Homo sapiens: one gene and its partners. The protein of the gene in region 1 purifies or fractionates together with the protein of each later gene. This does not show direct contact. Each region holds a gene or a part of one and is shown on either strand. Other genes may lie near its edges.

The links.
Region 2: the proteins of RSAD2 (region 1) and VPS13C purify together in Homo sapiens (affinity purification with mass spectrometry; one large-scale study listed by BioGRID and IntAct). This does not show direct contact.
Region 3: the proteins of RSAD2 (region 1) and UBE3C purify together in Homo sapiens (affinity purification with mass spectrometry, with the first as the bait; one large-scale study listed by BioGRID). This does not show direct contact.

The regions. Positions count from the first base shown.
Region 1 is NC_000002.12:6,876,440-6,880,610, reverse strand, and holds the start of RSAD2 (S-adenosylmethionine-dependent nucleotide dehydratase RSAD2), read right to left. Parts: upstream 2,835-4,171; 5' UTR 2,811-2,834; coding exon 2,465-2,810; intron 1-2,464.
Region 2 is NC_000015.10:61,959,363-61,963,015, forward strand, and holds part of VPS13C (intermembrane lipid transfer protein VPS13C), read right to left. Parts: intron 3,491-3,653; coding exon 3,387-3,490; intron 3,177-3,386; coding exon 3,009-3,176; intron 2,532-3,008; coding exon 2,227-2,531; intron 234-2,226; coding exon 86-233; intron 1-85. UniProt on the Homo sapiens protein: Mediates the transfer of lipids between membranes at organelle contact sites. Necessary for proper mitochondrial function and maintenance of mitochondrial transmembrane potential.
Region 3 is NC_000007.14:157,180,345-157,183,997, forward strand, and holds part of UBE3C (ubiquitin-protein ligase E3C), read left to right. Parts: intron 1-1,173; coding exon 1,174-1,327; intron 1,328-1,763; coding exon 1,764-1,984; intron 1,985-3,533; coding exon 3,534-3,653. UniProt on the Homo sapiens protein: E3 ubiquitin-protein ligase that specifically catalyzes 'Lys-29'- and 'Lys-48'-linked polyubiquitin chains.

The DNA of each region.
Region 1 (4,171 bases):
AGGTTGAGGGGAAGTCTTTTAGGTAACTGCCAAACTTCACTGTCATACAATGGGTCCCAGTAAAACAGTGGGCCTAAATAAGCACATTAGTTTCTCTTTAGTGTTCTAAGATAGGGAAGCTAAAAGCAGATTCAGGGTGGGTATGCCTGCAGCTGCAGGAAGATGTACGGGAACAGACACACAACTCTCCCTCCCAGATAAGCACAACAAAGAGAAACAGAAGCAGTCCAAGTCTCTAATAAACCCTCCCACGCCAAATCCTTAAAACTCTTAGTCTGTAAGAGAGTGGGCTCTGACTTAACTCAGCCAGAAGCCCCTCTCAGGTTTTTTTTCTCTAAAATAAACCTGTCCTTGACTGTGGAGCCACCTTTTGTGTTTCTTTCCTCTTTCTTTAATTCTTACAACCAAAAAAATAGTTTTCCTCCATTATCTAGAAATCTCTCTTACAGGAAAATACAACCTACACTATCATGTAAGCATTTCAATTAACTTTTGTTTTACTTACTTAAACTGAGAGGTTATTATATAAAAGTATTAATTATAACTATTAATAATAATTTATCTTTTATGACAAAAATACATGAACATTCACTTGTTTGTGCCTTGTACCAACTTTTGAGATTGGTTTATCAGTTATCATTATTATCTAAAGATAATTTTAAAGATCATGGAACTGATACTCAGAAAAGCTAAATGTCTTGACAAATCTAGTAAATGTTAGAGCAGAAACTCAAACCCTGGCTTTCTGAATGAAAGTCGTAATTTCCCTCGACATATCTCCTTATTCACTCACTCATGCATTCATTCATTTATCTAAAACATTTCTTAAGCCTCTATTACTTTCTAGACATCCTGTCAGGCATGAAGACACACAGGAGGGTAAAATTCAACCTTGGAATGCAATTTCTTTGAGGAACCAGACATTAAAAAAAAAAACTGAACAAAATAGTACATTTTAAAAAGCTGCAAGACATATTTGTACCAACTGCTATAAGCTCATAAGTGAAAAGTAAAGGGCATAATTATGGCTGCAGAGGATCAAGGAGAATTCAAAGGAACTTTGAAAGTTCACCAACAAGATTTGAGGACAGACATTCTAGGAAGAGACAACAATATGACCATCATTTTAACAATTTTGATGTTTGGAGAAAATGAGTGTGACAGGCTGTGTCTACAGCAGAGGGGACCCAAGCCATCAGGGTAGCAGAGGCTGAGAGCAACATTGAGCTTGCCAGGGGCCTTGACAACGATGCTCATAAGAAGGAGAGTTAGGAGTTAAATCACCAAAAGTACATTTTAAAAAAAGATCAGGAGTTTTCAATGGGGCAAGCAGAGACAGTGAGTTGAATTACAGTAATCCTGGTGAGAAATGATAGGAATTTGAGTTAAGCCACACTGGGAATGGGAAGTCAGGTTCTCATTTGAGCAATCAGCTTTGGGTAACTAAGCCAATGTAACGTGGAGCAAAGAAGTCAGATCCAATATAGGACCCACTGTATGATTTCATTTATATAAAGTACAGGATCAGGCAAAATGAATCTGTGTGTTAGAAGTCCAGCAAGTGCTTACCAGGGTAGTGGCTGGAGTGCAGCATGCACTTCTGGCGCTGGTGATGCTTTCTCTCTGAATCTGCAGGCTATTTACCTGGCTGTGATTGCTTTGTGAAATTCATCAGGGTGCACATCCAGAATATGTGTAATCTGGTGCATGTATGCTATGCTTTTGTTAAAAAGTTAAACAAGGAGGGAAAGAAGCTAGAGATGTTGCTGAAGTTACTAGTTGAGAAGGTACTCTAGGAAAGACAGGAAGACAAGGACGGAAGGCAGAACAGATCTGGAGTGGAAGATATTGCATTCGAAGGTCACGTGCTGAGTTCTCTCCAAGACGCTGCCAGTTACTAATGTGGTGATGCTCAGTAAGCATTCTTGAAGGCTAAGTCCTTGACATATTTGTTAAAAAAATTTTAAGGTTTCCTATTAAAAGAATATACACAAACTCAAATATAAGATTCAACTACTGCTATTTTTATGTCAAAGTTTTTGTTTTTGTTTCCAACTTTTCTAATTATTAATAACTGTTTCTGGAAAACCCAAATTCGTTAGTGTTGTGGGCAAACTCAGAAAGTAGTACAAACTTCCCAAACCGCCTCTTTCCAAACACCAAGTGTAATAGGGACCTGCCCTTTGCATAGACCCCTTCTTGCTTCCAAATGGCAGGAGGGACAGGTTTGCTCCACAAATCCCCTGTTCCAGCCCAATTCTGTGATTTAGGAAGGACTAGGTGCCCACTCCAAAATTCACTGAATTATTTTCTCATAGGACAACATGCTCACCATGCAAGGGTAAATGGTGACCTCAAGCTTTGGAGAAGCTCTCCAGCTTGTGCATACCCCCAGCCCCTTCTCGCCTTACCCCACTGCCCAGTGGTTGAGAATCCTGATTTCTGTCTAGGACCATGTACTCACCAGCTTCCTTAAGCAAAAGCAATCCTCTCTTTGCTTCCTCAAGGGGCAGCACAAAGGATGTTTTGGCTGTGTGGAAACAGAAGCCGCATTTGTAGTTGCACTGGCGAGTGAAGTGATAGTTGACGCTGGTTGGGGTGGTGGGCAGAGGAGGGTCCTCTTCCTCCTCTTTGGTCTCATCTGGCCCTCTCAGGACCAGCTGCTGCTTTCTCCTCTTGGTAGCTAGCAGCCAGAAGGTTGCCCTCAGCCAGCAGAACAGCGGGACCAGGCTCCTCCACAGAGAGCTCAGAGGTTGCCTGAACACACTCAAGAGCTTCCCAGCAAAAGCAGCAGGTGTAAGCACCCACATTGTGGCAGATGCCTGGAGCAGAGCAGTCTCTGTATGCCAGGGACTCTCTTTATATAGGGATGGAAATCAGCAGTCTCTGAGCAACCTGTCATTGGGGAGCAGGACACACCTTCTTTGACTAACACTCAGCTGAGTTAGAGTTTCGATTTTTCCACATGTGAAACTGAAAGTTGAAACAGGGCCAAGACTGAAGACTAGAGATCGGGGCGAGCATTCCTGGTTTCTCTGCTCACGGCTGCCTCAGTCCACTTGTATTATAACAGTCTCTCTAGCTTGATGTAGTTACACATGAGGATAGCAGTCTCTATCAATATCTAGCTCTCTGTCTGATAGAGATAGACAAGGTGCATTAATCAGCACGCTTTGTACTTGTTGCATTGCTTTCTCTTGACATAGCCAAGTAACAGTTTTTGCTCCATCATGGTGAAGGGGTTTCTTTTTAAAGCCAAATAATAAACAGACTGATTGGCTGGTGGAGGATGAGTACAGGATCATTCACCTCAAGACCCCTTTCAGATCACAGTAAAAAGGCATGGAACAAAATTGAATTTAGGTCTTATTCCATCAGCTATTCAGCCTAATTTATGCAAGGTGACAGTGTTAAAATTTAGATATTTACATCTTCCTATATTTTGATATCACTTTTTATAGATGTTTTTAACTAGAGGAAATCCAATGCTTTTCTAAGATGCTTCCTAATTGGTGAGAATTACTGCGACACATCATTTATTTACCTTTACAGTTTTTTTAGAAAGCCTTGTTGACCTTTTTACTGAAATCTTCCTTTTAGCCCTCTTTCATCAGAACTGTGTGTAAGTGTGTGGTCTTGTGCTTTCGTGACACCTGTAGGAAGTTGGAAGAGTCCTAGTAGCTGAACTTCCAGAGCCACAAATCATGTAGCTGGGTGACTGAGTAAGCGACTTTATTTCTCTGGATTTCCATTTCTTCATCAGCAAAGCAACGTATCTCAGGCGATTTTTGTGCAGAGTAAAACTGCTAATTTTTGTGAAGAATTCAGAATAGTGCCTGGCAAACTTTAAGTGTTCAGTTAGGGTTAGCTCCTGTTATTCTGATACTGTCATATTCTGAATAGAAACAGAAATGATTTATTTTACTTAAAAAAAATTAAACATGTTTAACTTAACATTTAACATCTGCAAAATTGTATGCTTAATGATTACCAAATATTCAACAGTAGATATGTCTCAGGTCCTTGAAATCTCAGCCCAAAGTTTCTTAAACTCTCATGCCATGGTCTTGCACAATTGAAAACCACTTTTGGATAGATCTCACTTCTTCATAAACATGTGATCATGAGAGGCATACAGGCACCTGTTAAATTTGAATCAAATTCTTTTGGG
Region 2 (3,653 bases), on another chromosome or scaffold:
GTCTACATTTCATTTGGATTTCTGCTAAAAGTCTTTGGAGTTTAAAATTTCAACAATGAAGTTTTTTCTTCACTCATATACTTACATTCATTGAATCAAGATGTCCTTTAATTTCCACAACAGGCACCTTGTGGTACCAAGATGCAGCTAGATTCCGATTTACAAGAAATTCCAAGTTAATTGGGTGCAACAGCTGAATATCAGGATGGTAGATGCCTGGCTGGATCACTGTCCTACGAAAAACAGAAATGTTACATAATGCATAGATATAGGGTAGAAATGCAACATATTAAAAAAAAGCAAAGTCAAGCAGTTATTTGCTGCTCTAAATACTGATCTGAAACAGTGTGGCTTGAGTATTTTCAAAACTGAACCTATAATTAATCTATAATCCACTAGAAGGGACAAATTAAAAGGTGATATACAATGAACCATTAAGAAAACTTTTTTCTTTAAACAGTAGATAGGTGAAAAATTGAATAAGTTTTTAAAAGCAATCCACACCATTGAAGAAATACAGAAAATCATCATATACAGTTGTTCAAGGATTAATAGGTATGTTGGTGCAGAGACTGAAGAAAATGATGGCAAAGTGAACAAGAGGAGTTAGCATTTTCCAAGGCATTTCATAAAGGTTTTCTCTAGGATTATTTTCTAGACTTGCCTTGTAGTCATTAATTTTTTATTCTACATAATTAAATCTTCATGGATGGGGTAGAAAATAATTTTAAAATGAATTATGTACAGATTTCATGTGCCACCTGGTATGAGCACTGAAGATACAAAATAATTTACACAACATGCCTGCCAAAAATGTGTAAGTTCAATCAAACCATGAGGAATCACTCAGACACAACCAAATTGAGAGGTGAGTGGAACCGGACTGTAGTCTTCAAAACTACAGTAGTAGTCATGTAGTCATAAAAAGACAAAGAAAAGCTGAAGAACTACTCCAAAATAAATTTCTGTCAGTACAGAAATCTTCCTCAATAGTACAGAATACAATTATACGCTATGGGTGATCCTGAATCAGGGAGAAATTTTTATAATGGACATTCCTATAATGCGAATTATTATAATGGGACAACTGGTAAAATCTGAATATTGACTGAATTTCAGATTATAGTATTACATCGATATTAAATTTCTAGAATTATATCATAGTTAATATAAGAGAATGAATGTCCTTGTTTATAGGAGACATATGATAAAGTATTTAGGGACAAAAAGTTAAAGATGTCTATTCTCAAATGATTTAGCAAAAAATGTTTTAAATAATATGTATATGTTTATAGATAGGTTAAAGCAAATATAAACAACTGGTGAATCTAGATGAAGGATATGTAGGTGCATTCACAGTACTATTTTTTTCCATTTTTCTGTAGGTCTGAAATTTTTTAAAACAAAAGTTGATTAAAAAACTGTTCTGGTGGCCTGGTGCGATGGCTCATGCCTGTAATCTCAGCACTTTGGGAGGCCAAGATGGGCAGAACACCTGATATCAGGAGTTTGAGACTAGCCTGGCCAACATGGTGAAACCCCATCTCTATAACGAAAAATACAAAAAAATTAGCCAGGCATGATGGCACGTGCCTATAGTCCCAGTTACTCAGGAGGCTGAGGCAGGAGAATCACTTGAATCCAGGATGCAGAAGTTGCAGTGAGCCAAGACTGCACCATTGCACTCCAGCCTGGGCGACAGAGCAAGACTTCATCTCAAAACACAAAATAAAAAACTCTTCTGGGCCAGGCGCGGTGGCTCACACCTGTAATCCCAGCACTTTGGGGGTCCAAAGCAGGTGGATCACCTGAGGTGAGGAGTTTGAGACCAGCCTGGCCAACATGGTGAAACCCCATTTCTATTAAAAATACAAAAAAAATTAGCCAGGCATGGTAGCACATGTCTATAGTCCCAGCTACTCGGGAGGCTGAGGCAGGAGGATTGCTTGAACCCAGGAGGCAGAGGTTGCAGTGAGCCGAGATCACGCCACTGCACTCCATCCTGGGTGACAGACCAAGACTCCAACTCAAAACACACACACACACACACACACACACACACACACACACACACACACACAAAACAATGACAACAATAAAAAAAACTGTTCCGTGTAATGGAACAGTTTATTTGAATAAACTGTGTTGGGTAGGAATTTCAAGTCATAAAATTTCATGGAAATCATGAATATAATATTTAAATCCATAATTATTGAAAGAGCATACCTATAAAGTGTAAGCTTTGTTAGCTGCACATCCATTCTATCAATTACTGGAGGATTTAAGTAGTCTTCATCAGACACCAGACTGAACTGATTATGAACTCTGATTAACCCAAGATCTACCACTACTGCATTGGTGGAAATAGAAGACTGTGGGATGACTATAACCGGTGCTTTCAAATCAATATTGATGGAAACACGAAAACTCCTCTGGGCAAGATCTTTCACACTTGTGGCAGCCCTTTCTGCAGCCTGGGCAGTGGCAGCACTCAGAGACTCTTTGGCTGTCTGGAAATTATTCAGGAAGTTCTGTGGACACAAAGCATAAAAAGAGAAATTCAAAGAGAATACAGGCACATCAATAATAACACTATCTTCTTTTCATACATGTGGTAACTTTTTTTTTCCAATATTTAACTTTCCATTGAGCCCTATTTTTCTAGCAGTATTAAGAAATTACGGATAATCCATCTATAACTATGAGCTGCCTGAACTGAGCTAATGTTATATGGTTAAGGAACAGAGAAAAATTTTTTTCCAATAATTTTTATACTAAAGAATCTGGCTTCATTATATTGTAGCAAAAATAATTTGTTCTAGACAAAAATCATTAAATGATTCACTTTTCAACTGTTAAATAGGGGTTTTGATCTCTACATTCACGCATAAATATAATTAAAATAATGCCCACTCTAAAATCCAAGGTTTATAACATTTGCCATCATAATTATCACACTTTTAAAATATTTCAAAGTTGAAAAATCAATATACAAATAATTATTTTACCAGAAGTGACATAAGGAATTTATGAAGATAGACAATCTGAATACAGCCAACATTCAGAGACAGCACACCATCCACTTTGGACATGTCAGTATACAAATCCCCCTCAGTAGCATCTGGATACAAATCCAAATTAAAACGGAAAACTTCATTTCCCATTATTGACACAGCCTGAAAAACAGAGACTTGAATGTACTCTATCCGGGAAGGTAATGACAAAATAAAATCTCATTTACAAAAGGCTTTACATTTATAATCTTTATAAAAAAATTTTTCTATTGAAATATATTTCATTAATGTTTTTAAAATAAAATACATTTTACAATAGAAGCTCATATTCAGTCATTAAAGAATATTAACTATCTGTTTACAATCACCTACTTTCTTATGAACTGTCTTTGGATCAACATCTGTGACAATAATATTTTCTAGTCGGGCAAAAAGTGACTGCTTTCTTGACTGGAGAGAAAGGGAGGAATCCAGTCCTGAAAAAAAGAGTGTATTATTATAATTTCTACAGACCTACCATAAATAAGATCTTTCTTTCCATTACATTATTTTATTTTGGGGTGACTTTTTTAAATTTAGCAATGTTTCAACTCCCAATGGATAAATAAGTTGCAATATTAGAGTTTTTTGGTTTTATAA
Region 3 (3,653 bases), on another chromosome or scaffold:
TAAAATTCTTGATGTATTTTTATCTTTTTAGTTTCATAGCAAAAGAGCTTTCAAGCTTTCATATGAGTTTCACTAGTTATCAGTATACACTAGGTTAGACTTGGGGTAGTTACAAAGTAGGTCTAATGATAAAGTACTGAGTATGCATTGTTTGGTGATCTTCACTCAAATACGAAGCTGTGTAGGACTGTTTCAAAAACTAGCCCATGCAGATGGATTGTTTTTAATGTGCTACCAAATACGCTTGTATATGATGAGATACTCAAAAATTGCACCTGAACCTTCTTATTCTATAAAAATGGAGTAAATGATTCTGAAAGAATATATGATTTGGATCATTCTTGATACCCAGAGTTATGTTCACTGCCTCCCACCCAGAGTTCCTATCAGAAGCGTAGGCTGGATATTTTAAGAGGTTCTGAAAGTTGTTTCAGTTTACGTATAAGCTGCCTTTAAACAGTTAACTTCTTCAGTTCCCAGATTGTGGTCTCCAAATACATCATCTCCTCTAAAAGGAGCTTAAGAGTTTCTGGAGAAAAGGCTGATTGTAGGGCGGGATGCAGGACTGCCAGTGACCCTGGGGCTCAGGAGCCTCCTAAAGCCCACCCCGGGGCCCCAGGTGGAGCAGCATGAGGTCAGGACTACAGTGGAATGAAACCTACCAATATGTTCAACTCTATGAATTCAACACGGTGTTTAAAAAATGCACAAATCAGAGACAAATTATAAGATCACAATATGTGGTCCTTATTGAGCTCCTTCCTGATGCAAGCAAACTAGTTAAATAGAATTTCTAACATGAGACAGTTGGAGACTTGAATACTGACTAGATATTTGTGATGTTAAGGAACTACTCTTCATTTATTTTAGCTGTGATAATGTTTTTAAAAATAGTCTCTTAATGATACACTAAAATAATTATATCTTAGACTTCCTTCCAAATGAGTGGTATACAGGTGAAATGAGATTGGCTGTAGTTGACAGTTGTTGGTACATGAGGTTTGTATACCGTTCGGCTGCCTATATATTTGTTTAGTTTTCCTTGCTAGCATGTTAAAGAACTAACTTAAGTTTGGACCTGTAGAGATGGTTAAAAGCATTTAAAAATTGGCAAGTTTTTTCCCTTATTACAGGAAAAGGCACTAAATTTTAAATATGTGTTTTTCCTTTTAGGGTATTATAGGTCTCTATATTTGTTGATTAACAGCAAGCTTCCATCAAGTATTGAATATTCTGATTTATCTCGAGTTCCTATAGCAAAAATTTTGCTAGAGAATGTTCTAAAACCATTGCACTTTACTTACAACTCCTGTCCGGAAGGTGCGAGGTGAGACTGGAATGGATTTATTGATTTTGTCCTTTCACAAGATCTATATCTGATGGTAACTTTTACATAGGATGTGATTTTAAATATAGACTTGAAATTCAGGTTTTTACTTTATTAGTGTTGATTTAGTTTATAGGAAAGTGTACTTTTTCTTTCTGGCCTGTAGCCTAATACAAATTTGTGATTCTGATAACATGGTTATTTTCCTGCTTTTCTAAGTAACTGTCAAAAATTAACGAAAACATGGTAGTTATCTTAATAGAGAAGACATTAAGTTTACTTTAGGTTGATCTAGTTGATATTAAAATGGTTAACTTGGCTAATTTAGAAGAGTAGATTATCCTTTTAGAAGGATATTTTGAAAGGTGATTTTAATCAGTGATTGGATGGACAGTATAATTTGATTTTATAAAAAGCTTCTGTTTTTCTTTTTCAGGCAACAAGTTTTTACAGCCTTCACAGAGGAGTTTCTGGCAGCACCTTTTACAGATCAGATTTTTCATTTCATCATTCCGGCGCTTGCAGATGCGCAGACCGTTTTCCCTTACGAGCCCTTTCTGAATGCACTGTTGTTAATAGAGAGTAGATGTTCAAGAAAGAGTGGTGGAGCACCCTGGCTTTTCTATTTCGTTTTAACTGTTGGCGAAAATTATTTGGGTATGAAATACAAGATCTTTTTTACCTGAACACACATATGGGTAGCATTGGCAGATGAGTCAAGAGAAGGCCATGCAGTGGCAGGTGTTATGGAAAGGTGGGCCTCTCCTGGAGGAGTGTATTTGCTGGAGGGATGTGGTCTGGGCAGTGTGTTCCTGGGGACAGTTTCCAGATACAGTGGAAAAGACTGACATATATATGTGTCTTATGAGGCCACACAGATTATTTTAATAGAGTTAACAGAGTTAAATGGGAAAGCTCTTCTGTGAGTCAGGCCTGTTTCCCTCCCTCTGCTAAATTTCCAGTGTGCCTCTTCTAGAATAACATCTTCCTGTAGTATGTTTGAAAACATACATACATACATACATGCATGAATTATTCATGAAAGAAATATAGGAAAATGTGAAAACCAAACTTTTGGGGGTTGGGTGCGGGGGGGTATATAGAGTCTCGCTCTGTCACTAGGCTGGAGTGCAGTGGCTCCATCTCAGCTCACTGCAACCTCCGCCTCCCGGGTTCAAGTGATTCTCCTGCCTCAGCCTCCTGAGTAGCTGGGACTACAGGTGCACGCCACCACACCCAGCTAATTTTTGTATTTTTAGTAGAGACGGGGTTTCACTATGTTGGCCAGGATGGTCTCAATCTCTTGACCTCGTGATCCACCCGCCTCGGCTTCCCACAGTGCTGGGATTACAGGCTTGAGCCCCTGTGCCCAGCCCAAACTGTTTTTCTTACTCTCTCACTCAACACTGAAAAATTCTGTGAGCAGAAATGTGGGGTTTTTTTTCCCACACACCAAGCAATTCTTCAGTGGACACCAACTAGGTATTCTACAATTCAGTTCAATTCTGATGCCGTCCACCCGGAGATAATGTCAGATCCCATCATCTGAGGGCTTAGTCCTGCAAGACTACACCCACTTCAGAGGCCGATTACAAGTAGTAGGTTGTCACCTATACTTCTGACCAACCTGCAAAAATGGGGGTTCCTCAGCCCCTCCTTGGGATTGGTAATTGACTAAGACAGTTCACAGAACTCGGGAAGTCGAGGTGTGCGGGAATGGGGAGCTTCCATGCCTTCTCCAGGCACTCCACACTCTCGGCACCTCCCTGTGTTGAGCTCATTGTGTCTTCCTGTTGAGTTTTATGGTGCTTCTTCTCCAGTGTCCCTCCCACAGACAGCCCCTTGGAAGTTGGTGCGTGGGGCTGAAAGTTCCAACCCTCTGATCACTTGGTTTTTCTGGTGAAAAGCCCCATTCTGAGTCCCCTAGATGGCCTCACCATAAGTCACCTCAAGTATGATCACAAAGGGCTGGCTATGAATAACAAGAGACTCTTTATCTTTCAAGAAATTACAAGAGTTGTAGGTGCTTTCTGACATGAACGGGGACAAAATCTAAATATGTTTCCTATTATAACACAGTTAGAATTTTAAAAATAAGATCTGGTCAGAAATGCCTCTCTGCGTGTGAGGAAAAATGGCGTCTTCGTTTTCCATTTTAAAAAATAATGTTTAACTAAAATACGTTTTAACTGATTGTTTTGCAAAGGGGCCCTCTCTGAGGAAGGGCTGCTGGTGTATTTGCGGGTGCTGCAGACCTTCCTCTCTCAGTTACCAGTCTCTCCTGCCAGCGCGAGCTGTCACGACTCAGCCAGTGACTCTGAGGAGG